4 linked regions of the Homo sapiens genome follow. The protein of the gene in region 3 binds, or shares a complex with, the protein of the main gene of each other region. Each region holds a gene or a part of one and is shown on either strand. Other genes may lie near its edges. The genes, in order: KANSL1, KANSL3, PHF20 and OGT.

Region 1 (7,026 bases), on a different chromosome or scaffold from region 3:
TGAAAATATTTGGGGGAAAAAAATTGTGTCTGTACTGAAAAGGTACAGATTTTTCTTTTCATTATTCTCTAAACAATACAGCATACTATTTTTATAGCATTTACATTGCATTAGGTATTATCAGTAATCTGGAGATGATTTAAAGTATATGGGATTTAAAGCATACACATAGGTTATATGCAAATACTATGCCATTTTATATTAGGGACATGAGCAACAATAGCTTTTGCTATCTATGGGAGGTCCTGGAACCAATCCCCACTGCAGATACTGCAGATACTGAGAGCCTGCTGTTATCTGGCCTATCTTCTTTCTTTTTTTTTTTTTGAGACGAAGTCTTGCTGCGACGCCCAGGCTTGAGTGCAATGGCTTGATCTCCGCTCACTGGAACCTCCGCTTCCCAGTTCAAGTGATTCTCCTGCCTCAGAGTAGCTGGAACTATAGGCACATGCCACCACGCCCAGTTAATTTTTGTATTTTTAGTAGGGATAGGGTTTCACCTTATTGGCCAGGATGGTCTCGAACTCCTGACCTCAAGTGATCCACCCGCCTCAGCCGCCTCCCCAAGTGCTGGGATTATAGGTGAGCGCCACTGTGCCTGGCCTATCTTCTTTTACATAAATCCAGAGTCTTTGAAAAAACTTGGCAATGAGAGAGCCTCAGGGGTTAGCATAGTGCTATACACAAAATTTTTACTCAATAAATGGTAAAAATTTCAAGTGATCCAGGCCTAAGTTAACATTCTCCAGACACAGAAATATTGAAGTGCTCACCAAGTCCTGAATCTCTGAGTTCAGATTTTCTATCAGAATTAGTTTAGACTCTTTTTTATAAATACTTTGGTTATCTGAAACCCTTTGCTGCTGGATAACTGAGTATGTGAGGGACACTACACACCTATTTAGATAAAATTTGTGGGTTACGGGGGTAAAGAAAGTCGAAGAGCAAAGAGACCATTTGGAAAAGATTGATTTGTAACAGCAAAGAGAGAACAATGTGAATTCCTACCTGATCACAGGAGCCTAGTGAGTCCATTTTATGAGCTTGGAAGTTTCCTGATCTAGGCTCTGAAGGAACTTCCTAAGTTGCCTCTGCAATACCCTCACCCAGGCTTAGCCTGTGTAGTGTAATGGTAAAAGAGCTGGCTCTACAGTCAGGCTGCCTGAGTTTGAATCATAATTATAACCCTCACAAGTTGCCTTGACAGTTTTCATGCATATAAAATGAAATCCACAGTACCAACCTACATCTCAAAAGGCATTATAACATGTAACACATGTAAATCACTGATCACTGGTATGTAGTAAGTGTTCAATAAACATTACAGTTGCAGACTTTTACATTTACCATTACATTACATTGTAATTATTATACAAAAAGGACCCTTTGAGTAGGTCCATAGCAGCTACAGGTATGTATGTTCCAAGAGGGCACACTTGAGGAATTAAAATATTAGAATGAAATTAAAGGAAATGTGTCTGGAATAGCTGTGCAAACTGCTTCCAGATGGAGTGTGGTATCGTAAAATCTGGTGTGTGCATGCCAAATGTCCTGCCATGGGGGCCTGCTGGATCTGTAATTCTGCTCTGTATACCTAAAAAGCATGGACTCTGCCTTCTCCCTTCCCTTCTCTTCTGGTACCCTCACGCCTAGTGTTTATTCTTAGTACTTCACCTCCACTCACCCAGAGAGTAAAACCAAGGAAATCAAACACTGCTTCCAACGCCCATGGGAATCTCCCCTCTACCCACCCCTCCTCTCTTGTTCACTTCTTGGGCCAACAGGATTAGGGCCACGGAACTGTTGAGTCCTGTGTGAAACTTAGTCCAACAGATCTTGAATAGTCACAGATCACCTTAAGAGTTTGTCCCTGCATCAAGCTTTCTATGGATGGCTCAGCATAAATCCATCTCTGCTATGAAAAACAACTCAAGAAAAACAACAGAAGGTCAAGTACCATGACTTTGACTTAAAAATGGTACAGACATACATACATATGTCATGATGAGCTGAGATCCTATAAATGCCCTGGGCTTTATAACCCACCCTCACACTGTCCTCTGGAGCCACTTGAGTGAGCTGTGACCTGCAGAGGGGGTGTCCGGCCAACCCCACACAGGTACTTACCGATGTGCTGGCTGTAACCTGTGAGCTAGAGCTGGCGGGTGCAGGGGAATCTGAGGAGGTGGAGAGCTGTCGCACCAAGGGACTGTGTGGAGGATGGTGGGTGGCTGCCAAGTAGCTCGAACTGCTCATGTCTGTGTGATGCTTCAACACTGCAGAAGTCAACAGAAAAGAGAGAAATACATGGCTATCTTAACCAGCGTTACTTCTAACACAAGCTTGGAATGGCAGCAATACATACTAAAGGCAAAAATGTTTTCTATGCCTAGAGGATAAAAAGGTGAAGCACACTAGCTGTGGGAAGTAGGGGCAGGGCAGAGGTTGCTGTAGCAGTTAAGAAGTGACCTCCATTTAGAAGCAGTAGCGTCCCTCTACTCTGCTTTCCTAGAAAGTGAAGGACAAAGCTGGGGGTAATTAAGAGAAGCCTAGGCTGCCCCAGAAAGCCCTGAGCAGGTGCAGTTGCAGGTAGAGGTGCCATGGGCCTGGCCCTACCTTCACTTCTCTCAGATGAATGGTCTCGCAATCTCATTTTGCTGTGGTTTGGGTCATGCACGGGTGGTGGTGGGTTGAGCAAGCGCTCTGCTTTTGGCGCTGTCACTCGCTCCACCATGGGCACGGCCCCCACATCGTCTAAGTGCTGCCTGTGGGTCCTGTCAGGCCGGGTTTGGTGATGGGACAGCTCTGAAGAGGGGAACAGAAAAAGAGCTGTGAAATATGTCCTCTCAAATATTTTCTTATTCGAGTTCCAAGCTCTCGAGTTCTCTCTAGGCCAACGCCGTATACCCAGGGCAGCAGGACAGTCCTTCAGGACTGAAGTTTCTAGTAATTTGCACAATGGCTAGGATAGGCACAGGGAGCCCAGAACCAGAGAAACATGTCACCAGGATACAGAAGACACCTGCCCGTAGATGAACTCAATGCCATGCCATTGCTGGCTGTTCACTGAGCATTTTGGGTCTTGCTCCAAGATCCATGGTGTCTAGAATAGCTCCCGAAGTCCATCTGAGAGCATCCAAGACAAGCAGAAGCAGTCACTGTGAGCTGAATTTTTTATCGGTCAACTGCCTCTCCCAACCCCAACATGCATGCAAACTACAAATTTGAGAATATAAAAGGAATGAAAAGTCACTGATACTCTGGGGGACTTCCCGGCTCCCTGACACTTACTGGCTGTTGTTAGGAAGGAGCTGACCAATTTGTGCCTGTCCTTACGAGCTGAATCTGGCAGACTGCCCGGCATGGGTGCTCTGTGCTTAAGCGATAACTTTTTGGGAGGTTTGATTTTGTCAAAAGGCTTGTTCTGCCACTGAGATTTCAGCATGCTCTGGAAATGCAGGCTTGTGGGAACATCTGCAAGAAACATAAAATGCTACAGGTTAGTCCAAACACCTGGCCTCTCTAGTGTTCAAGACCTACACTCCATCCTCCTTTAATTTGCCCAGTGGCCTGACACTTGGCAGGGCAAGTGCTGTCATATGGAAGATCTGTTTACGTGAACATTACTGAAGGTCATTCTTCTATTTGCAAGCAGGTCACTTTAGCTTTTTACTTTCAAGTCCCAAAGGGAAACAAAACAAGACACCTTTTTGGTTTGGTTGATGGAGTTTTTGTTCTTGTATCCTTGTTTGTTGAATTTACTGGTTTGAAAACATCCTGTTTCTATTCTAGAGATTTAAAAACATATTTAAGCCTACTTCTTTTCTATCAATATAAAGTTAATCAGGATGCAATTATTCAACAATATTCATTATCTATGTTATCAGGCACTGTACTGAGTACTACATACTCTCTCCAAATAAGAACTACATACCATTCTCTCTTTCCTTCCTCTGTGGCTCCGCCAATTCCCATCATGAGATTATCGGGGATTTTTAGCTGACTGGTTAATGTTCAATATCACAAATCAACATCTTTTGGACTGAATTTTTTATGCTGTTTCTTATCTTTCCATTTTCTTAGATTTTTCCCAAGAATATATCCTTGAGCAATTCCTTTAGAAAAGGAATTTCTAGATTTAAACCATTTTCCTCTCAAACATTTAAAGCTATTCAATTCTTCCGTGTATTCTAATATCCAGTGCTATATTTAAGAGGGAATCGGATTCTTTCTTACTTGTAGGTGGTCTGGTTTTTGCCTTTTAAGCTTCTGCAAAAAACAACAACAAACTTGTGGTATTACACTGACTCTACAGATCAATTTGGGGACAACTTCCATGTGTTCCACCACCAATACTGAATCTTTCAATCGACTGACGTGGTATCTCTCTCTCCATCTATTTACGTTTGTCTTGATTTTCTCTTGACAGCGTTTAGTTATTGTTGACATACCGGTCTTAAATACAATTTGTTAAGTTTATTCCTAAGAATTAATGTTTTCTGATGGGCAGAAGTTGGAAGAGTTTGCAGGGTTCAGAAGAAGACAGGAAGATGAGGGAAAGTCTGGAACTTCTTAGAGATTTGTTAAATGGTTTTGACCAAAATACTGATAGAAATACGGGCAGTGAAGGCCAGGCTGACAAAAGTCTCAGATGGAAATGATTAAAGATAGTACCTTTTAAAATTTCAACTTCAGTTCTTCATTACTAGTATATAGAAGTACAATAAACTGCTATATAATGACCTTGTAGCCTGTGAAACTACTTCGTTATAGACTTTTTCTTGTTTATTCAGTAGGATTTTCTATAGACATAAGTACATCATCTACAAATGGAGACTGTTTTACCTTTTCTTTCCAATCTGTATTCCTTTTTTACTTCTTGCCTATTACTCTGACTGGAACCTCTGGTGCTGATGTACAACTTTTAGATTTTCCTTTTCATGTTTTCAATATTCTGACATTTCACCACCATGGATAGCGGTGTGAGTCTGTTTTCAAGCTTCTGCAAAGCTTTCCAGGGATATTCAAATCTAAAAGCCAGCACATTTTTCCTCACCTCCCAGTTCCTCCTGGGAATCGGTAACCACTTGGGGCATGCTCAGAAGTTCCCGCCAGAGTCCCTATCCACTGCTTCAGAATAGAATGAAACACCACTACTTCAAGGAAGAAGGCTCTGGTGGGGTGAGAGGACAGGAAAGGAAAATCTAACCTAGCTATTCCAAAATGAGTCCAAATTTATCACCCAGACAAATGCCCAGGTCCTATCACTACTCCTTCTGCCCTTTAATTCTGGGTCAAAAACCTCCTGTAATCAGTTCCCACCTCACAGCAACTTACTCCTGGCATGTGCTTTGGGCTATCTTTCTATTTATTTCTTCACAGTTATCTTGTCTTTATCCATCTTTCAAAAATAATTACAAATTCCAGTCACTGATAGCATGTCTTCTAGAACTATTAGAAATTTATTTTGTGTGTGTGTGTGTGTGTGTGTGTGTGTGTGTATATTTTTTTTTTTTTGAGACGGAGTCTTGCTGTCGCCCAGGCTGGAGTGCAGTGGTACCATCTCGGCTCACTGCAAGCTCCGCTTCCCAGGTTCATGCCATTCTCCTGCCTCAGCCTCCTGAGTAGGTGGGACTACAGGCACCCGCCACCTCGCCCGGCTAGTTTTCTGTATTTTCAGTAGAGACGGGGTTTCACTGTGTTAGCCAGGATGGTCTCGATCTCGACCTCGTGATCCACCTGCCTCGGCCTCCCAAAGTGCTGGGATTACAGGCGTGAGCCACTGCACCCGGCCTGTTTAATATATTTTCTAAAAGCTTATGGGGTTTTGGGTCCCATAGAGCACAGAGGATATGCTCAATCTGAACTGAGGATAAGAAGGCAGGGAAGAGACGTCTAAATTAACATTACTGAACCCATTATTATCTGCCAGGCACTGTGTGTTTATCATCATGCGTGTGCCACTTAATCTTTGTAACAGTTCCATGAGGCAAACACAATTATGCTTATTTTAAAGATAGGGAACAGGTGCAGAAAGGTACATTAACTATGTCCAAGGTTACATAGTTTAATGAGTAACAACCAACTTTCAAACTCAAGATTATACAACCCTAAAGCCCATACTCTTAGACAATATACCTTGAGGCTACTCACTGATCCAGAGGATGGAGAGGATTCTGTAGTAAAGTCAATTATTTCTCAAATTACTCCCAAGAAATAGACAGTACAAAATATTTTCCAAGCCAGTTCTGCAGAGTAAAAGAAATTTAGCCACTCCTGCCTATGGTATAGATGATGAATTTCATGACACTGAATGTTATGCCTTCGAGGACTGAATGTTAGGCCTTCCAGGACTGGAATAAAAATCTGAGTTGGGGAAAAAAAAAAAAAAAAAAAGCTAACATTCTCAGGGATGATTTTTCCCAGTGGGTAAGCACCCTCAGCTCCATGATTGCTGGGCTTTATGACAGTGAAACAAATTAGGAAAACTATTAAAGTTTTAATGAAAACAAACATTTGCTACCTGTCCAAGTGTAAAAACACAGTCTCTGAGGACAGTGCTGTCTTCTCAAACATTTTTCATAATCACTCTTTTCCACACTTAAAAACTCAGCTATACCAAATCCTAGGAAATAAAGCATTGTCTAGAAGCATTCGGCCCTGTAAAACAATCTGAAAGCTGGGCTGAGCTGGAATGTATAAAAGAGGCTCAAGAAAGGAGACGAGGTCACTTCTGCCCATCCCACAATACCCCTTTGTCAGCAGAAGAGTTACTCCCACTTGGCAAAGGCTGTGTATGTTTTGTATATATATGTAATGGAACTCCAAAAAACATAGATTTTATTTTTTCCTTTTATTTTCCCCCATCGTTCTCCCAAATCTGAAAATGAAGCCAGGAAAAAAAAAAGGGACAGGGATATGAGAGACCTGGTTATAGTGAAAACAGCAATGACTAGAAACAAGTAGGCCTGGATTCAGGTCCTGGTTCTATCTCGAGTAGAAGGAGAAAGCAAGAACAAATCATTC
Region 2 (7,026 bases), on a different chromosome or scaffold from region 3:
ATATGGAGTCCTTGCTGTGTGCCATGCCTTCTTCATGGCACTCGCATTGCTGTAGTTTGTTGAGTTTTGGCATGGCCCCATGAGGCAGATAGTACTATTCAGTTTTAGATGCTTCTACAGACTGACTCCGTGGCAGAGTCAGGTTGCCATGCAGTAATTTCAGAAGGAGCCCCTATTGGCCATTTTCTACAACCTTTTTTCTTATTCCCTCTCTTTTTCTCCCTTCTCTGGCTGGCTGTGATTCTGTAATTCTTTCTGATTCATTCCAGCACAGTTTGCTGCTTTTCTGAAACAAAATATGCTGGTGAGGAAAGCTCTTCCTCCTGGCACCTCCTCCTGTCTCTTTGGTGAGTATTACTCTTTCTTGCCTGCTCGTCCACTACATTCTGCTCCTCAACCCCTTATTTATTTTCCATCTCTGCCTCTCATCTGCCTCAGTTTGGTTTCCTCCTGTTCTTTTCTCTCTCTTTCTTTGTATTCTTTTGTTTTGCTGACCCCTTTTGCTTACTCTGTAGTCTTTGCCCTTTTTCCATTCTTTTGTTTGCTTCTCATGGTGTTTTCTTTTTTGTCTCTTAGTGTGGTTCTTTCTTTCACTACGGTCTTGGCTCTGCTGCTTTTTTGTATGTCTGTGGCATTGCCTGAGTCTCAGTTTCCTTGTGTGTTTTTCTCCCTGCCTCCTGTCCTGTGTTTATCTGGTGGCTACAAGCCTACCAGCCACATATCAGCATAGAACCTGAAACTCCTTTCCCCTACACCCTCCTTCCTACTCTGATTTTAGCCAGTGCATTTGTCCCCTAAGCAATCCTTCTAGCTGGTTATGTCCTGACTGTTGCCTCATGCCAGGACCCCTCCTCCCTCCTCATGTGACTGCTACCTTCCTCCCCACACCAGTCTTTGCTTCCCTGTGCTACAAGAGGACTAGGGTGGACTTCTGGGTTTAAAGAGGAGGGAATCTTTGAGGAAGCTTGAAAGATAACCTAAGAGTCCAAAAAGCTTGGCTGTATACATGATGAGCCTGTTTGATTCAGTGGAAGTGGAAGCCCATGTGTGAACAGATGGCCTTTGTCTGTACTAGTACACATGACCTGGGGACTAGGTTGTGACATGGGCCAGTGTTGCCCTGTTACTTTTGGGTGGGAGCCGTGAGGTTGCCTGGTTGAGGTACTCTCTCTCCTAGTAGCTACTCATAGCCAGCTTTTAGTCCTGGTGACACTCCTCTTCATTGCCTCCATTTGGCAAGTGGATCCTCAACTGTGGGCTCTTAGGGCAGGGTGGGACTCTTGAGAGCCTTTGGAAAACTCTACTTTTTAGAGAGGACTGGATGACCTGCTCCTCCATGAGTTCTCATAGAATGTTTGATGTCTCCAACTGTGTGATGATGTGGGGAGGGCTTCAGACAGGAAGATGATCACATTTTTTGAGTCTGAGAAGGACTGTTTACTCATTCTGTTGAATCCTCTATTTTTGTTGTTGTTGCCATTGGCCTTGGCTAGGCAGGGTCAGGATGTCTTCTGTCTTTTAATTCCTACCAACTCAGGGCCCCTTCTCTTCCGATTCCAGTGCAGGATGAGGGATGAGAAGGGTGCCATCCTCTAAGAAGGGCAAAGTGGGGTCCCCCACGGACAGGGCCTGAGTGAAGTGGTCCTGAAGCATGGGCAGTCTCCTTTGAGGGGTGGCCCTGTACGTAGAGTGGTTATCCTGTGTGTTCTACATTCTACACATGGCTGTGTTGGTGCTGGTATTGACTGAGTGTCTGTTGGGATTTTTTGGATTGTGGAGGATCTCAACTCAGCTCCATGTCTTAGTTCCCATTTCATCAGAACCACCAGAGGAAGGAGAGAAAGAGGATCTTAGGGTTCAGCTGAAGCGACACCATCCCTCGAGTCCCCTTCCTGGCAGTAAGACCTCCAAACGACCGAAGATCAAGGTGTCCCTTATCTCCCAAGGGGACACAGCTGGAGGGCCTTGTGCTCCTTCCCAAGGAAGTGCTCCAGAAGGTGAGTTTCTCTTGGTACGTTAAATGAGAACTGAGCTCTCTCAGGTACACAGCATTGCCCTTTGGTGGCCATTCACCAGCATGTCAGCCTTTGCTTTATTTTGAGAGATGCCCGGAGCAAAGAAGACATGAGTCTGTACATGTGGGTAAAGTTGGCATGAGTCCATCTGAATGAGGACCAGGCAGGCAGAATATGAGAGGAAGCTGTGCCATCGTTCAAAGCATCCTATATTTTGTTCTTTTTTTGTTGGCTTCAATTAAAGGTACAGAATATTTCAGGAAGTTTAGAAAATAGAAGGAAAAAATAACCCCAACTCTCCCTACTCTAGCATAGTTCATCTTTTTTCATTTTCCAGTTTTCGTCCGTAATATCTTGCATTTAGCCTAAGCTGTGGAACCTGGAAACATAGAGGCCAAATAGGACTGACCAGGGGCCTTGGGGTTTTCTGTTTTGAAGCTGCAGGTGGGAAGCCCATCACCATGACACTGGGGCAGGCTTCAGCAGGGGCCAAGGAGCTCACAGGACTTCTCACCACAGCCAAGTGAGTGTTTATTGGACCATCTGTGTCTATTCCTTTTTTCCCTTCCCTCTGTTTCTGGTTTATTTAGTGCTTTGGAAAATGATGGATTCTGGATTCTTGTCAGTTTTGGAAATGTGACTTACTTCTGATTGGGATCTTTGTCTTGCTTTTGAGTCAACCCAGAGTTCACTTTTACTTAAGACTCCAAATCGTCCCCTGGCTTTTGCTATAAGTCCTGTAAGTAAGGACTTTTAGAAGACTAGAGGCCAGGTACAGAAAGTGGGACAAAGAAGCTGAAGGTTTTTGGTGTATGTCTGCTGCTGAAAGCCTTGCTGGGCCCCACTCTGTACCCTGCCAGTGTTGCTAGGGCTTGCTGTCCTGTGACCTTTGGATAACAGAGCTCCTTCCTTTGTCTCCAGGTCCAGTTCTTCTGAAGGTGGAGTCTCAGCCAGCCCAGTCCCTTCAGTGGTCTCCAGCAGCACTGCACCCAGTGCCTTGCACACACTGCAGAGCCGCCTGGTGGCCACATCTCCTGGCAGCTCCCTCCCAGGTATCTTGTGGCCCAGCATTCTCCCCTTCCAACACAGAATTTTTGGTCTGCTGCTTCTGGGTGGTCCTGGGAAAGCATCCCTGGAGCTAAATCCATAGGATGGGCCTCTGGGTCTTAGAGTGATCATAGAGGCTTGACGTGAAGCTGGAATTAGCTTGGGCAGAGGGATTCCTTGGCCTTGAATAAATGCAGTGAGTAAATGTCCTGGTCTGCAAGTGAGTAAATGTTCCAGTCTACAGGTGCTGTATCCTCTACTGTAAGGAGAAATAGCCGATAGGACATATATGTATAGTCAGCCTTTCTTATCCACAGGAGATTGGTTCTAGGACCCTCACCACTACCAAAATCCATGGATGCTCAAGTCCCTTATATGAAATTATGTCATACCGTTGGAATTCTATATCCACAGGTTTCTATCCGTGGTTGTTTGAATCTGCAAATCTGCTGTGAAGCTCACAGATAATTGAGAGCTGACTGTGGTTTTACTTTGCTGTTTTAAGCACATCTGCCTGAATAAAACTGGAAATGGTGCTACACTGGGCATTAGCAAAATGAGACATTTTTCTGTCTGTGCTTGTCTCTCTCTTTGTCCTACCCACTAACCCTACTTTGAAAGGCCTGTTGCCTGAGCCCAGCAGGGCCAAGGCATTGCAGAAACCCTCTCCTGGCCAGGCATGGTGACTCACACCTGTAATCCCAACACTTTGGGAGGCCGAGGTGGGTGGATCACCTGAGGTCAGGAGTTTGAGACCAGCCTGGCCAATATGGTGAAACCCCGTTTCTACTAAAAATACAAAAAATTAGCCGGGTGTGGTGGTGGGCACCTGTAATCCCAGCTGCTTGGTAGGCTGAGGCAGGAGAATCGCTTGAACCCAGGAGGTGGAGGTTGCAGTGAGCTGAGATTGTGCCATTGCGCTCCAGCCTGGGCAACGAGAGCGAAACTCCGTCTCAAAAAAAAATAAAATAAAATAAACCCTTTTCCTTTAAGAGAACCTTTCTTATTGCTTTGAGGCTACTTCCTTACTGCTTTGATTGTGTGAGGCGAAGTGAAAGTTGGATATTTATAATTCTTTTGGCTTAAAAAGTTCTTCCCTGGAAAGAAAGGAACAAACTTGGATTTCTCAAAATGGTCTAAAATGTATGACTGATGGTTTGCAGCAGGTGCAGAGCAAGTCCGGGGCAGTGTCTGGCACAGTACCTTTCCTGTGTGGCATCCATTGCGTGTGTGCCTAGTTGGGGAGAGCTTCCTGCCTTCTCTCTGAGGACGGGTGTCCAAGGGCAAGCACCACTGGTGTTTTAGTTGGTGGTGAGGGTGGATGGATGTGGCTGCTCTCGGGATAGTGCAAGTGATTGAGTCTCTACTGATTCCTGCTATGTCCTCTCTTAGGGGCCACATCAGCCAGCAGCCTCCTCCAAGGCCTCAGCTTCAGCTTGCAGGATATCAGCAGCAAGACCTCTGGCCTTCCAGCAAATCCCTCCCCAGGACCAGCCCCACAGGTGCACATCTGCCATCTGCTGGGCTGGGCAGGTGTAGGGAGGAGGCCTCCTCAGCTTAGTTGGTTTTGGCAGGGAAACTAGGTCTGGAGTCAGTGGATCAAGGACAAACAGCCTTCTAGCTACATAGCAGGGAACTTACAAAAGTTAAGGTCTATCATTTACTGTGTGACCTTGGGCAAGTTTCTTGACCACTCTGTTTTTGTTTCTTTGTCTATAAAATGAGGTAATAATAGTACCTCCCTCATAGAGTTGTTATAAGAATGAAATAATATATGCAAAATGCCTGGAAGAGTACCTTGCATGTAGTAGGCACTCAATACATGTTAGCCTTTAATAATATGCTGTGGGCCCTCCAAGCTCGAATGTTGCTGTTGGGCGACAGCTTCTGATCACCTGGGCTTGTGTGTCCCACAGGCCACCAGTGTGAAGTTGCCCACCCCCATGCAGAGCCTGGGTGCCATCACCACGGGCACCAGCACCATTGTCCGTACCATTCCTGTGGCCACCACTCTCTCCTCCTTGGGTGCCACTCCTGGTGGGAAGCCCACAGCCATCCACCAGCTGCTGACCAATGGGGGCCTCGCTAAGTTGGCAAGCAGCCTCCCTGGCCTGGCTCAGATCTCTAACCAAGCATCAGGTGAGTCTCTCATGAGAACTGTGGGGACTCCCAGATCTGGGATCTTTCCCCCAGGACCTTCCCATCTCATGTGGGCAAGGTATGATGTTGAAACCAGTCCCACAGGGTCCTGGCATTGACCTTTGGATTCAGCTGTGTGGACCCATCCCCCAGAGAGGTTGAGAGAACACAGGCTGTTTCCTGTTGCCTTTCAGATTGACTGATAGGGCATAGATGACCCAGCTGGGGAGGAGGCCAAGGGACTGTGTTATGTGGGGGAGAAGCTCTCCAGGAAAGGAAAGCCTCAGTAGAAGGTGGAGAGTGTGACTCAAAAATTCTGCTTCTCTCTCTTTATCTCAGGCTTGAAGGTCCCCACCACCATTACTCTGACACTTCGTGGCCAGCCGAGCAGGATCACTACACTGAGCCCTATGGGCTCAGGAGCAGCCCCATCCGAGGAGTCCTCTTCCCAGGTGCTGCCCTCCAGCTCACAGGTGAGTCTGCCAGGAAGGACTGAGGACATGGGCTTCATTATTGGGAAGTTTAAGACCAGCTGACTGGCTGATTGAAGGGGCTGCCCATGCACTGGACAGACGAGATTCAGATTCAAATTCAAATCTGTATTCTGGAGTTTGTGGCTTTATAATATTGAGCGAATCATGGACATCTTTGAGCTTCCTCTTCTACATCCCTCCCTTGATATTGTGAAGAGTACATATGTTCAAGTGGGTAGCAGTGTCTAGTATTTAATGTTTTTGTTTACTTTTCCTTTCGTTTCATTTTTTTCTCATCCTTGGTTTCATCCTTCAGAGGTTATGAGTAGAGGCTACTTGGCTAATGCTCTTTCTTTGTTTTTATTTTTATTTTTTGAGATGGAGTCTTGCTCTATCGCCCAAGCTGGAGTGCAGGGGTGTGATCTCGGCTCCCTGCAACCTCCACCTCCCCGGTTCAAGCAATTCTCCTGCCTCAGCCTCCCAAGTAACTGGGATTACAGGCGCCCGCCACCATGCCCGGCTACAACAGGGTTTCACTGTGTTGACCAGGCTGGCCTCGTACTCCTGACCTCAAGTGATCTACTTGTCTCGGCCTCTGAAAGTGCTGGGATTACAGGTGTGAGCCACCGCTCCTGGCCCTTTCTTTGTTTTTAAGGACATGGAGACAGAGATATCTCACTATGTTGCCCAAGCTGGCCTTGAACTCCAAGGTTTAAGTGGTCCTCCCGCCTCGGCCCCCAAGTATAATACTCTTTCTTTGACATTGGCTTTCTAGCACTGTGCCTTCCCATATCTTAGCATTTATTGCTGTCTTTTTAGGGCACAGCTAGGTTTTTATAGGTCTCACCCAGGAAGTCATGATTAGTTTCTCTTAGCTGATCTAATTTCCCCTGTGACCTTTTCAAGTCAAATATTTCTAATCTTAAAATGGTAATCTGAGGAGCCACTCAAAGATTAGAAGTTAAGCCAAAAAACAGTTTGAGTCTAGTACTGAGTGTGCTTTCCTTCAGTATCCGCTATACAGCCAAGGCCTTCCTGTGTCTCCCTGTCCTTTCCACCATGTCAACCTGCTTGTGAACTGGAGGTGCAGTGATAGTTCCTGAGCCATTCTAAAAGCTCTTCTGTCTCTTCCTCTTTAGGGAAAATACTGCACAGAGGTCAACACCTGACATTCGTTGGGATCATAGCTACCTTTTTTTGCAGAGGGATGGAAATGTTTTAATTTTATCTTATTTCTTATTTTTTCAATTATAAAAATGATTATGCTTATTTTAAATAATTCAAACATTATAGAAATAATTAATTTAGAAAGGGAAAGTTTCCCATGATGCTACTCCTAGAGATGATGTTCA
Region 3 (7,026 bases):
TATATTTTTAGTAGAGACAGGGTTTCACTGTGTTAGCCAGGATGGTCTCGATCTCCTGACCTCATGATCCGCCCACCTTGGCCTCCCAAAGTGCTGGGATTATAGACGTGAGCCACCGTACCCAGCCCTAAACTAAGCTTTCATAACCAAGTTTTAAAATAGGAATTTGGATGTAACATTCCTTTTTTAAAAAGCCGGCCTGCTTAGCTGGGTGTGGTGGTGCACACGTATAATCCTAGCTACTTGGGAGGCTGAAGCAGCAGAATCTAGGAGGCGGAGGTTGCAGTGAGCTGAGATCATATCACTGCACTCCAGACTGGGCAACAGAGTGAGACTCAGTCTGAAAATAAAAAATTTAAAAAAATTTAAAAGCTGACCTGGCGTGGTGGCTCACACTTGTAATCCCAGTGCTTTGGGAGGCCAAGGAGTTCAAGGTTACAGTGAGCTATGATCGTGTCACTGTACTCCAGCCTGGGTGACAGAGCAAGACCCCATTTCTTTAAAAAAAAAAAAAAAAAAGCCTAGTAAGCTATTATATGAAATATATATATATATATGCCATTGTTTTACAATTGGCCATTATTTAATTATTTATGTAGTTATATGAATAGTACTTTATTTATTTATTTATTTATTTATTTTTGAGACGGAGTCTCGGTCTGTTGCCCAGGCTGGAGTGCAGTGGCACGATCTCGGCTCACCACAACCTCCACCTCCTGGCTTCAAGCAATTCTCCTGCTTCAGCCTCCCGAGTAGCTGGGATTATAGGTGCACACCGCCATGCCTGGCTAATTTTTGTATTTTTAATAGAGACGGGGTTTCACTATGTTGGCCAGGCTGGTCTCGATCTCCTGACCTCATGATCTGCCTGCCTCGGGCTCCCAAAGTGCTGGGATTACAGGTGTGAGCCACTGCACCCAGCCTGAACAGTACTTTAAAACTAAAAGACAAAGGATATTTAATGACCATGAAAAGTAAAAAAGTCTTTTGGCATTAGAGAGATTATTTTCTTAAATAAAAAATGTTGCCTTGGTGAGCAGTGGTCTCTATACACATGATCTTAGTGTATTTGAACAGAATTTTTTCCTCTGTAACCTTCTGTCTTGCTAGCAACCACTATGCTAGTTGGAAGCTGTTCTGCATCTTTAAAAGAGACACTTGGGATGGTGCAGCACATGGTATGGAGAGGGTGGCCTGCTGGATGCTGGGGTCCAGAGGAGATGCTGTTGACTTCCCACAGTCCTGGCTTTGTTCTTCAGCCTAACAGACCTAGACAGACAGCTTCCATCTCAGGAACTCCACACACTCCTGTTAACCAAGCTCAGGCACTACTGAGTGGCTTAGACTCTTCCAGTCTGAGCGTTGGTGCGCTTTCACACTGTGCATGCCTCCTGGGCCACCGTAGTATCGGGATGTCTTTGGTGAGCCTGGAACTAGATCCAAGGTAGTTAGGGTGACCTTAAGAGGGGCCTCTCAGCAACTGTAGGATCATCTTGCAAAAGATTGACTGACTCTCTTTGCTGTTGGAGTGACCCATCCAGTCCTGACTGCCTTTTGTCCATTTATTTATTTTTATTTTATTTTATTTTTTTAAGACGGAGTCTTGCTCTTTCTCGCCCAGGCTGGAGTACAGTGGCATGATCTCGGCTTACTGAAGCCTCTGCCTCCCAGGTTTAAGCGACTCTTCCTTCCTCAGCCTCCCAAGTAGCAGGCAGATGCCTGCCACCACACCTGGCTGATTTTGTATTTTTAATAGAGATGGGGTTTCACCATGTTGGCCAGGCTTGTCTTGAATTTCTGACCTCAGGTGATCCACCTCCCTTGACCTCCCAAGGTGTTGGGATTACAGGCGTGCACGTCCGGCCTCTCCATTTATTCTTCTGCCTGTTTGCTGAACAGTCCCCTGTCTCCTTCTAGTTTTTTTTAAAGACTTACTGGTGTTTTGAAACTGGTCACTATCCAGTTTTCTTGCTCAGCAGGCCACTAGTTCCTCTCACATGACTGATCTTTTACTAATGGTTTTCAAGCTTAAGTCTGAGGAGGTGGTCTTATTTTTCTTATTTCCAAGTCCTTGTACTTGCTGGAATTAGGAAGAGAGAGGGTTCCTCCTTCTTGGAACCCCCAAATACCAACAAGAAATATGATGGAGGAGGATAAACTACATAGGGCCCAGAGCAATGGGTAGGGCGCTTTGCTGGACCACACATTCCTTCTCTCGCTGTGTTTGTTGCAGGCTTGCCACATTTCAGACACAGGTGAGTGTTAGGGATATAGTGGCAAGCAAGGCAGACTCAGCCTTTGCCCTCGTGGAACTTGATCTAGTGGGAGAGACATATATTAAACAAATCATCCCATTACCTGTAATGACAAACCATAGTAAATGCTCAAAGGAGAACATGTGATATCATAGCACCTGTAACACAAGGACCAGATTCAGGGTATAGGGTTGGGGAAGGCTTCCCTAAAGAATAGCTCACAAGAAACAGAGGATTTAGAAAGGTGGAGAGGAAGGTAGGGCTGCATCTGAGGACAGGAGAGGATTGCGCAGTAGGTTGCAGGCTGCTTGATGAAGAGGTACTGGGTGGGCCTTTCTTTTGCTGCACTCCAGGGTCCAGAAGGTGCTCAGTACAGGTTGGTGCATGGACTAGAAAGGCTACAGGCAGGCTGGGATAGCACAGGGGCTACCTGCAGGGGGTGGTTCTTGTCAAAGGTGCAGGGTTCCCAGATGGTCTCTCCCCAAATGCCAGAGCTTTAGGGGGTAGCTTAGGGAAGAACAAACATCTTTCTGTAGAGAAATACTTGTTCTCACAAGCAAGACAGCTTTCTAGATATTGAACCAATGATGATAATGTTAATTAATACCTGAAATCTTACATTAAATATTTAAAGGGGTCCTGCATGGTGGTTCATGCCTGTAATCCTAGCACTTTCAAAGTGGCCAAGGCAGGTGGATCACCTGAGGTCAGGAGTTCGAGGCCAGCCTGGCCAACATGATGAAACCCCATCTCTACTAAAAATAACAAAAATTAGCCAGGCGTGGTGGTGTGTGCCTGTAATACCATCTCCTCAGGAGGCTGAGGCAGGAGAATCGCCTGTACCCGGGAGGCGGAGGTTGCAGTGAGTCGAGATCATTGCCATTGTACTCCAGCCCAGGCAACAAGAGCGAAACTCTGTCTCAAAAGAAAAAAAAAGGCCAGGCCCAGTGGCTCATGCCTGTAATCCTAGCAGTTTGGGAGGCCGAGGTGGGTGGATCACCTGAGGTCAGGAGTTTGAGACCAAAATACAAAAATTCGCCGGGCGTGGTGGCACATGCCTGTAATCCCAGCTACTTTGGAGGCTGAGGCAGGAGAATCGCTTGAACCTAGGAGGCAGAGATTACAGTGAGCTGAGATGGCGCCACTGCACTCCAGCCTGGGCGACACAGTGAGACTCCATCTCAAAAAAATAAATAAATAAGTAAATAAATAAAGGGAGAAAATAATAACAGAGTATTCTGTGCCACTGATGATTGCGTATCAATCAGGAATTAATATGAAGCAAATCAGAGTTTATGATATACAAATAGACCTTTTCAAGACCCTATAGATTTTCATTTTTCTTGACAGGATGCTAAAACACCAGGCTCTCTGATTTTCAACATGGGAAAGCTTTTTATTTTTTATTTTATTTTATTTTATTTTATTTTATTTATTTTATTTTATTTTATTTTATTATTTTATTTATTTTATTTTTTGAGATGGAGTCTCGCTTTGTCGCCAGGCTGGAGTGCAGTGGCACGATCTCGGCTCACTGCGACCTCCGCCTCCCGGGTTCAAGCAATTCTCCTGCCTCAGCTTCCTGAGTAGCTGGGACTACAGACGGGCACCACCATGCCTGGCTAATTTTTGTATTTTTAGTGGAGATGGGGTTTCACCATGTTGGCCAGGATGGTCTTGATCTCTTGACCTTGTGATCTGCCCGCCTCGACCTCCCAAAGTGCTGGGATTATAGGCATGTGCCACCGCGCCCGGCTGGGAAAGCTTTTTAAAGAGTGAGTGGTAACACTCAGAAAGGTGCTTCCTTCCAAGACTTCTAGACTCTGGTAACAGTAGCCTCTGGCAATGTGTGGCTGTTTAACCAAAACTGAATAAAATTTAAAATTCAGTTCCTCAGTTGCATTAGCCATGTTTCCAGCGCTCAATAGCTGCATAAGGCTAGTGGCTACTGTATTGGATGACACAGACTTGGACCATTGATCATCGCAGAAAGTTCTTTTGGACTGTGCTGCTCTAAAGCATTTGTGTTTTGTCCTGGGAGTACCACTTTGTAGAGCAGGTGTTGACACAGTGCTGGCTGAAATGGCCCTTCCTCCCTTGCCCCATGGAGGCTGAAATGGCCCTTCCTCCCTTGCCCCATGTCTGATGGAATAAGGTGCTGAAATGCTTGCTGATGTTCTTGCAAATCAAGTGTTGGGAGTTCACTAGGTCTCATCTCTCTCTTCTGCCGACAGTGTTGGAGAGCTGGCTGGACTACACTGGGGAACTGGAGCCCCCTGAGCCGCTGGCCAGGCTTCCGCAGCTCAAGCATTGTATCAAGCAGCTGCTGATGGACCTGGGCAAGGTGCAGCAGATCGCCCTCTGCTGCTCAACATGAAACTGGGCACCCAAAACTCATGGGGGCACAATCCTGGGGCACCTGCAGGAGGAGCTTCGCATATTTAAATAAATAAACCTAGCATGCTGAATGCACGTGACACCGACTGACTTCAGGGATCTGGGCCAGGAGTGTGGTGGACATTGGACAAAGAGGCCATTTTGGCTGCGGGAGGACACTCTGATCTCGAAGCCTGCCATAAAGGTAGCAAATAGACTCTTGGGATTCCCCTCTTCTGTGCACATCGTTGAATGAAGAGAGTCTTTTTGCACAAACTTCACTTGAAATTGTGCCACTGATGATAAACGGAATGAGAGCCAAAAAAGTTTAGTTGGAGACAGTTGTAAATTCAATTTGGAGTTTATTTAATTGACTTTTCTATCACGTTGGGGCACATGCCAACTCCCTGGTTTCTTCCTGGCATGGTGTTTGGGCAGCAGGCATCATTTTCCTTTTCTAGCTTCATAGGAATATTGTGAGCTCACCATGCTGTGGAGGTTGGGAAAGAGCAGAGTCTTGGCTGCCCTGCTTTCTCCTTAGGACTCTTCACTTTTCTCACCACATCTCTTGCATGACTTCATGGTACTGGGGACAAGTTTGTATGCCTTCACCCCAGAGCTGGCTGGGTTATGGCTTTTGTAGCAGAGCCCATACAGCCTATGGAAGAACTAGAATCTCACTCACAGTAATAAGAATCTAGGAGGAATTCCAAACCGAAGCAGGCAGGGTCTGGAACCCAAAGGACAGCATTTTCTACCCACTTCTTAATATTGACAGCTTCCCCGTTCTATTTAATGTCCAAAAATGTTTCCCAAAATTTCAAACTCTTTCACTGTAAAGATTTGTTACAAAGAATGTGGTTTGGGGAATTACCTTATTTTATATTGTTGTAAACAAACTTCAAATTCTACATGTGCGACTTTTCTCCTTCCTGAAGGGTGTTTAGTAGTCAGCGTTTTCAGAATTGTTTTGTTACTATACTTTAACATTTTACATTTCCTGTTTGTATTATTTTGTGAGAGCAAGGTGATCATGCTGCTTAAGGTCCAGGTACAACCTATTTGTACCTTTTGAGACAATATTTGTGTTACTTTTGCAGGTTACGGTTCCACATGTAATTGCTATATTTTGTTTTGTTTTTCCTTACTAGGCAAAGTTAAAATGTTCCATGCTTTGAGGAGTGACCCATTTCACTACTTTGTTTTCTTATCACTAAAGGCAAAAATCAAAGCACAGTTGTCCATTAACACTTATAAGTTAATTATGGGTTTATGAGTCTGTAATGTTATATGCTGCAAACATTTACTATGTAAACGTGAAGTAGCCAATAATATCTCAATAGTAGTAACAGTATCTTTAGCGACCTTTGGAATAGTTAAGCACAGGTCATTGTGGACATGAATTCAGGCCTCTGTACTAAAATCTATTTCAGGGAATGTTCTGTCTAGTGATTTGCTCACCATTTGATATATAATGAATTATAGGACAAGTATAAGCTGATCTGCTATAGCTGTCCATCAGAGAGAATACACGTGGCTATAACATCTATAACAAAACGACGATTCCTCTACAAGAGGCTGTTTCTCACTGCTAACGTTGGTGTTTCTGGCGTGGGAAGAAATGCACAGGCGTGCATGGCATGCACGTTCAGACAGCTGCATTGTAAGAGTTCTGTCATGCAGTCTGAAAAGGGAAGAAACAGGATGGCTTTCTGTAGCCACACCTGTGAGGCGTGATGATTGTTGTATTATTAGATTACTGATTTTTCTTTTCTGAAAATACATTTGAGTTTTAATCACATCTGTGGAAGCTGTAACTTTTAAGGTAGTCAATTTCATGTCTTGTTCAACGATGTAAGCAGAAACTGAATTGCCCTAATTTTGCCAACTGGCCATTATTGGGATTATTGTTTAAATTTTTGGTAAAGGAAGTAATCTCCTTTCATTCATTGTGACTTTTGTTCTTAGGGAAGCAGAGAAGACTCCCCAAGTTCTTATAACCTCATTGTGCTTCCCTAATTTAAAGCCATGTTGAGGGGCTCCATTCCCAATTCCTGGGTCAAGGTGAATTAACCCTATGTTGGAGCACTGGAAACCGTTATTTGCAAACATTGCTGTTACCATTTAGAAATATGTGCACTATCAGCTGGGTGCAGTGGCTCACGTCTGTAATCCCAGCACTTTGGGAGGCCGAGGCAGGTGGATCACCTGAGGTCAGGAGTTCGAGACCAGCCTGGCCAACAGGGTGAAACCCCGTCTCTACTAAAAGTACAAAAATTAGCTGGGCGTGGTGGCGGACGCCTGTAATCTCAGCTACTTGGGAGGCTGAAGCAGGAGAGGTGCTGGAACCTGGGAGGCGGAGGTTGAAGTGAGCCGAGATTGCGCTATTGCACTC
Region 4 (7,026 bases), on a different chromosome or scaffold from region 3:
TTTGTGGTTGTATAGTATCATCCATCAGGTGAACCAAAAAGTCTGCCAACAAAGTACAGGCTGCCACACAACAATCTTACGGTCAGCCATACTGGGTCAGTTCCATCATCTCCCTGACTCAATACTGTCCTTCAAGCAATGACTGATGTTCTAGAGAGTAAGGTTGTCTCCCATCACTTCAAGCACAAAAGGCTAATACTAATCCTCAAAACATCAAAGGTACCATTAATCTTATTTGACTTCTCCTCTAATTAGCCTGAGCACTTTTTAACACTATACTCTCAGAAGTAATGAATTATATAATCTTGCTATCTACTTTGTATGGTTATGTTTTTTTCTAAACTGAAAGGGTTACCCCTGTTTTGGCAGACCATGACTGCATAATCCAATCCATGCATACAAGCTCCTTCTACTACTTGATAATTGTGGTTATACATGTTTGGACTTTTACCAATTCCTATGCCTTTTCTAAGTCATAATAATCAGAAGTCTTGCAATAATTCTCCAACAATGACTGTAATGGCCATACATAGTAGCCAGCTGTTGCGTAATTTTATTACCCTCTAGTTTCTATGAACTCTTGGATGGATGCCACTTAAGTCCTGACAGCATATCTATATTTTGTTATCATCTAGATCCATTACAGTATACTATATCAAGTTAACACAATGCTCATAGTTAAAAATACATTATCTTCAAGATTACTATAAGATAATCAATAAGGCAGTTTTAGGAAAAGCTAAAACATCATATTAAATGTAACGGTGAAATCCAATTCTCCTGTTTGGGGATCCAAACCTATGTGCATGAACAGCTAATTTCTAGAAAACGCACGGGCACCACCATTCTCCCAAAAGTTCAAAACCCAAGACATCACTTCTGCTTCATCTGTCAAATCAAAATGTTTTTGACAATTATATTTCTCAAAACTAGCCCATTTTATCCATCCCAGGTTAATACATTTCAGGCAAACTGTTACTCAATTCAATAACATGCCTGGAACTATAGGGAAAAGATATAGAATCCTTATCATCAAGGGGCTTACAATCTATGTGAAAAGACAAGGCACACACTAAATGCCCACTCAGTAGTAAAGAATTTTAAGAGAACTAGATGATGAGCTCATAAGAGAAGTTTAAGCTGGGCCTTGAAGGATGAGTAGGGTTTTAATAGACAAAGGAGGAGGGCACTGTATACAAGGGAAAATCGTGAGAATAAAAGGAGATAGAAATGAGCAAGATTTTCCTGTAGAACTATTTCTCCTAAGATTGCATCAGTTTCCTGCCTTTCCTCCTAGAGCCTCCCACCCCCACCAGCCACAACATCTAGACACGTACATACATATGAAGTAAAATCAGGTCGATAAAAACCTACAGTAATTCTCAATTGCCTCTCAAATTAAATTCAAACTCCTCAGCCTCTCTATTCTTTATAAATCTTCCAATTGACTCTCCTCTACTACATTCACTTCTTGTTACTACTTGACTCACCACTTCAGCCAAGGAAGTCTACTTGCTATTTACCTTCCTACAGAATGCTTAGGTCATAAGCACCCACTCGAGGAAATCTTCTGATTAATACTCTCCAACAATTATCATCCAAGGAACTTACACCATTTTTTCCTTTACGGGTCAGGTCCTGTCTTATATTATAACCCGCAACTTCCCCCACAACACATCTCCCCATTTCCTAACAAAGCATTGTATGCACAATAAGCACTCACATATTTAAATGTGACATTTGCACAGCAACCTTAACAAAAAGCAGAACAGAGAAGAATCGAAATATACAACAGAAAGCAGAACAGAGAAGAATCGAAATATATGGTTTTCTACAGTGCAGCTGTATAAGAGAGGCTCAGCAGTAACAAGTAACAAATAACATGACAGGAACACACATGATGGCCAGGATGCCAGCAGCTCTCCATTCTGTGCATCCACAATCAAAGCACAAGCAACAATTCAACAACCTATAGATTCAGAAACAGACCTGTTTAAAACAACTCAGGGTTATAGCCGTTACAGAAAGGACAATTTTATACATAATTTGCAAAAGGAATTGCCAGGTATAGGCAACTCTAGTGAGTCACCATGTCAAAGAACATGTGCTGTCACTGCAAGGTGCTATCTGCAATAACACCTTCAAATACAACAGACTGCCAGGCACAGTGGTTCACGCCTGTAATCCCAGCACTTTGGGAGGCTGAAGCAGGCGGATCTGTTGAGGCCAGGAGTTCAAGACAAGCCTGGCCAACATGGTGAAAGCCTGTTTTTGTAAAAATACAAAAAATTAGCCAGGCATGGTGGTGGGCACCTGTGATCCCAGCTACTTCGGAGGCTGAGGCAGAAGAATCGTTTGAACCCAGGAGGCAGAGGTTGCAGTGAGCCGAGATCGCGCCACTGCACTCCAGCCTGGGTGACAAGGGCAAAACTCCGTCTCCAAAAAAAAAAAAAAAATGACAGACTAAAATCTTACCAAAATTATGAAAACACCCAACATTATAATTATAGAAGATAATTCAGAATGAAAAAAATGAGATAGCTGTCTCAAAGATAATTTCTATAATCAAGTCACAGAGAACAACTTCTAAATTGACATATCTATTAACTTAAAAAGATAAACACTGTTGAAAACAGTTACCAAGGTTACCAAAGATACCACCTTAACATTCTACTCTTTCACTGCTGCAAAACCAAAATAACCTGAGTTTCTTTAACCATTTTTCATAGAATGCCAACTACATCTATGATTCAGGTACACAATGTACTAATGATGCATTTAAGCACTGTCAACAAGAACATAAGGAACAGACGCAAGGTTCTACCAGTACTGAACTGACAACGGGCATTTGACAGTAAGTTTAAATCTAGTTAAGACTTTAGATATCCTGAAATAAATTAAAATATGATCACTATGGCATGTTTAGTTGAAATCAAGGGAACTTGCACAATCCCATTTTCATTCTTATTGGTAAAAACAGTAATAAATAAGTAAAGCAGCACCTTCCACTAGAAGAAACATAGAACCAGATGACAACACATGGCCATTCAATGCATTCAAGAGGTAATCCCATGATTTATTTTAGTACTATCTCACTTCCTTGGTAGGGTACAACAATAAGCTTCCTGCTAACAGCAGGTTAGATATTAAATAGCAAGGTTCCATCTCTCACTTTAGTTTTCCTTCTCAGCATAGTCCTACTGCTTGGGTACACTATCAGTAGCAATGACTGCTCTGCTACACACATAGGCAACTGGAAACCTGAGCCAAGGGCATTAGAGTTAAAGATGGCAAGAACCACAGCTGTGTAAGAGGGTACACTATCAATAAGAGTAGAATCAACCTGATTAATAAAGGTAAAGAACTTACTGTGACAACTGGGTACAGAGGTGAGCCCTGAGCCCTGGGAAAAATGGGGTCCAAGGCCCAGTGGCAGTACATACCAGGCTCCCTAAAACTTTATGTGGGTAACTAGCTAGATTAGTATTGCAATAAAACTTACAAAAAGTCACTCAAATGTACATATATATACACTGAGTGTCTCAGAAAAGATAGACAAGAAATTAGTTTCATTTGCTACCTCCAAGAGTGCTAACTGGAGGTATTCACTGTATCCATTCAAAAACCAATAAATTTAGAAGCTGGGTGTGGTGGCACACACCTATAGTCCCAGCTACTCTGGAGGCTGAGGCAGGAGGACTGCTTGAGCCCAGGAGTATGAGTACAGCCTGGGCAACATAGCAAGACTCCATCTCTTAAAAAAAAATGTTTTTTAAAGCAATGGATTTTCTAAAAAGGACACGTTTAAACTCTCAAAATTAACTACAAAAATTGTTAATAGATATCATCATGAGAAGTGACTTCGGATCTTTGAACAAACTACTAAATTTAGTTTCAGTTTCCTAACCAAAAAATAAGGGACAGCAAAATATGATCAATGGTTTTTTAACTGTGCTCAAGGGCTGCTTTGATGGGTGAGTGCCCTCTGGGCACATCATCCCACTTTTATTTCTTTTCACTTCAACATTTGCTTTGAGGATATTCAGACTCAGGTTTTAATATCTATTAATACTTCATTACTAGCTTTGTCCCCATGAAAGCCACATAACCCTGAGTCCATGGTTTTTTTTTAATTGATAAAAATCAGAAATAATATCATCTATTTTGAAGAATTATTGTGAGGATTAACTAAGACCAATCATTTAAAGCTGTCAGTAGAGTGTCTGACCACACAGACTTTCAGTAAACGGTAGCTAAAATAAACTATTAGCCATTTCCAGGTTGGTTACAAAACTGAATGTTGACAATGTAACTTGGGAACTTTTTCTAGATTTCTATAACCCCACTATCATTTACCTCTTAAGTTTACATCTACTTTCTCTAACTACATCATAAGTTCTGAGGGAAAGTCTTATGTTTTTGTATCTTTCGGAGATCCTAAACACAGTATGAATTTAAGGTCTGCCAGCTGAGCCTTACTTGTTCCCAGAACACATCTGCAACTTAGACAAAAAAAATTTTTAAACTAATCAAAAGCCCAGTATAAGTAGTATCATCTAAATTCTATGACTTCTAATTACATTGAAAGAGAAGAGAATAGGATATTGAGGAAGAAATTTTGTAGCCTAATTTTCACATCATTCCATATAGTGGCATCTTGTTTCAAACTATTTTATATTACAGATTTTACAGATTAAGACCCATTATCCACCATTCCTTGAAAATCAATTAACTTGCAAACACTTATCAGAATTTATCCAAAGTTAATCACAACAGAAAAAAGTCATGTGCTCTGTACTTTATACGTGTTATTTTAAAATTGATGTAGTTTCTTGCAATAAGAATTTTTATGCTTTTTAATATAACTTGCTAAATAAAACAAATATTTTAGCATAACGCAGACCAGCTAAAAGCAATTTCACCATTTTAAGTACATACGCATTTCTAAACTTTTGACTTTATTCCATGTGAAAACCTACTTTAGTGTCTGAAATATCACACTATGTTTCTTTCTGGGTTTCTAGGAAGGGAAAGTAACCATTAAAATTTTACTCACAGGATTGTACTGAAGAGCAGAGACGTAAGCTTGTACTGCCCCTTCCATGTCACCCGCTGCTACCAAGGCGGCTGCCAGGTTAATATAACCATCGATGAAATCAGGTTTGAGACGCAATGCATGTCGATAATGCTCAATTGCCTCCTGCAACTGCCCTCTTTCCTTGTACACATTCCCCAAATTCGAATAAGCTTCTGCCAGAAGGGGGTTCTGTTTAATTGCCAGAGTGCTAAAGTGAGCAGATCTGGAAAAGGCGACAAGTGTTAATGCATGGGTATGCACGTTACAGAAAAGAAGGTATGGCCCATATGCAACTCAAACAGTTTGAGATCTGTGCTATTGCTCATTATATAATACCTTATCTTTTAACTAGTGCATAGCAAGAAAAATTTGGGAAATCAAAGATTTTCAAAAGTGGAGGTATTCTAGATTTCAAAATGAAAAGCTTTTTCTTATTAAATAAAATTATTGGCTGGGCGCAGTGGCTCACGCCTGTAATCCCAGCACTTTGGGAGGCTGAGGCGGGAGGATCACCTGAGGTCAGGTGTTCGAGACCAGCCTGGCCAATATGGTGAAACCCCGTCTCCACTAAAAATACAAAAATTTAGCCACGCATGATGGCAGGCGCCTGTAATCTCAACTACTCAGGAGGCTGAGGCAGGAGAATCGCTTGAACCCGGGAGGCGGAGGTTGCAGTGAGCTGAGATTGCGCCACTGCACTCCAGCCTGGGTGACAAGAGCAAAACTCCACCTCAAAAAAAAGAAAAAAATTCTAACTAGAGTCTTGTTACAAAACTACCACATTGGCCGGGCGCGGTGGCTGATGTCTGTAATCCCAGCACTTTGGGAAGCCAATGCGAGCAGATCACCTGAGGTCGGGAGTTTGAGACCAGCCTGACCAACATGGAGAAACCCCGTTTCTACTAAAAATACAAAAATTAGCTGGGCGTGGTGGCACATGCCTGTAATCCCAGCTACTCAGGAGGCTGAGGCAGAAGAATCGCTTGAACCCAGGAGGCAGAGTTGCAGTGAGCCGAGATGGCGCCGCTGCACTCCAGCCTAGGCAACAAGAGCGAAACTCCGTCTCAAAAAAAAAAAAAAAAAAAAAAACCCACCACATTGGAAATCATGATCATTAAGATAAAAAATGGAAAGCTATGTGCACGAGTCTCATTTTCCATTTAAGATTTAATGATGCACATCTTTAAGTGTCTAAATATGCCAGAATAACAATTATTAAAAGGACAGGAACACAAATTCTTCCCTTTTGATTAATTCAACTGATTAACTAAAAGCAACACACCATAACAACTTAATGAAACTCCAGGTATGCATCTCCTGCCACAGCATACATAACCATCATTTCTGAGCATTTCAGTCCCTCAAACTGACAGGTCTCATGAAAGGGAGACTGGATGCTCAGATATACATTGATAATAATTTATTACCTGAACAGAGTCTAGAAAGCAGCAGACCCAGATAGAAAAATCTAGAAAAGGTCCCTAGTCATACTGATAATATAACCACCACCACAAAAGGAAGGAGAAAAACTGGCAGCTGGGCATGTCACAAGTGGGCAAGAGAGCAGATGTGCGTTGGCGGCTCAGTTGAAACCCGGTACTGGAAAAATTTCAAGTTCAAATATTTAAGTATCATTTTTCAAGCTCAGCACCCAGAGGCAGCAATCACGAGCAGGTACCCCAACATCTCCTACCTGTCCAGCCTTCGACACTGGAAGTGTATAGATGAAAGTAATAAAAGCACACCAGTATTGTCTGGCTCTTGTCTCCAGAGCTGCATGCAGTGTCTCTCAGCTGCCTCAAAATCTCCTGCCTGATATTCTCGATGTGCCAACTCAGCTAACCCTTGGAAGGAAAGCATACGTTTCGTTGGTTCTGGAGAATCATCAAAACATTTGAGGGAAGGAGGGGGGAAAACAAAAAGTTAGAAATGTAAACCAAAAAAATGTA

The links.
Region 1: PHF20 (region 3) and KANSL1 share a complex: the UniProt entries of both Homo sapiens proteins name them as parts of the NSL complex.
Region 2: PHF20 (region 3) and KANSL3 share a complex: the UniProt entries of both Homo sapiens proteins name them as parts of the NSL complex.
Region 4: PHF20 (region 3) and OGT share a complex: the UniProt entries of both Homo sapiens proteins name them as parts of the NSL complex.

What each region holds. Positions count from the first base shown.
Region 1 is NC_000017.11:46,036,411-46,043,436, forward strand, and holds part of KANSL1 (KAT8 regulatory NSL complex subunit 1), read right to left. Parts: intron 3,475-7,026; coding exon 3,292-3,474; intron 2,806-3,291; coding exon 2,617-2,805; intron 2,277-2,616; coding exon 2,128-2,276; intron 1-2,127. UniProt on the Homo sapiens protein: Non-catalytic component of the NSL histone acetyltransferase complex, a multiprotein complex that mediates histone H4 acetylation at 'Lys-5'- and 'Lys-8' (H4K5ac and H4K8ac) at transcription start sites and promotes transcription initiation.
Region 2 is NC_000002.12:96,600,291-96,607,316, reverse strand, and holds part of KANSL3 (KAT8 regulatory NSL complex subunit 3), read left to right. Parts: intron 1-269; coding exon of another isoform or gene 270-347; intron 348-1,779; coding exon of another isoform or gene 1,780-1,805; coding exon 1,806-1,997; intron 1,998-2,453; coding exon 2,454-2,538; intron 2,539-2,936; coding exon 2,937-3,067; intron 3,068-4,454; coding exon 4,455-4,564; intron 4,565-4,978; coding exon 4,979-5,201; intron 5,202-5,540; coding exon 5,541-5,674; intron 5,675-6,813; coding exon of another isoform or gene 6,814-6,843; exon of another isoform or gene 6,844-7,026. UniProt on the Homo sapiens protein: Non-catalytic component of the NSL histone acetyltransferase complex, a multiprotein complex that mediates histone H4 acetylation at 'Lys-5'- and 'Lys-8' (H4K5ac and H4K8ac) at transcription start sites and promotes transcription initiation.
Region 3 is NC_000020.11:35,942,996-35,950,021, forward strand, and holds part of PHF20 (PHD finger protein 20), read left to right. Parts: intron 1-4,489; coding exon 4,490-4,632; 3' UTR 4,633-7,026. UniProt on the Homo sapiens protein: Methyllysine-binding protein, component of the MOF histone acetyltransferase protein complex.
Region 4 is NC_000023.11:71,536,103-71,543,128, reverse strand, and holds part of OGT (UDP-N-acetylglucosamine--peptide N-acetylglucosaminyltransferase 110 kDa subunit), read right to left. Parts: intron 6,952-7,026; coding exon 6,771-6,951; intron 5,301-6,770; coding exon 5,057-5,300; intron 1-5,056. UniProt on the Homo sapiens protein: Catalyzes the transfer of a single N-acetylglucosamine from UDP-GlcNAc to a serine or threonine residue in cytoplasmic and nuclear proteins resulting in their modification with a beta-linked N-acetylglucosamine (O-GlcNAc).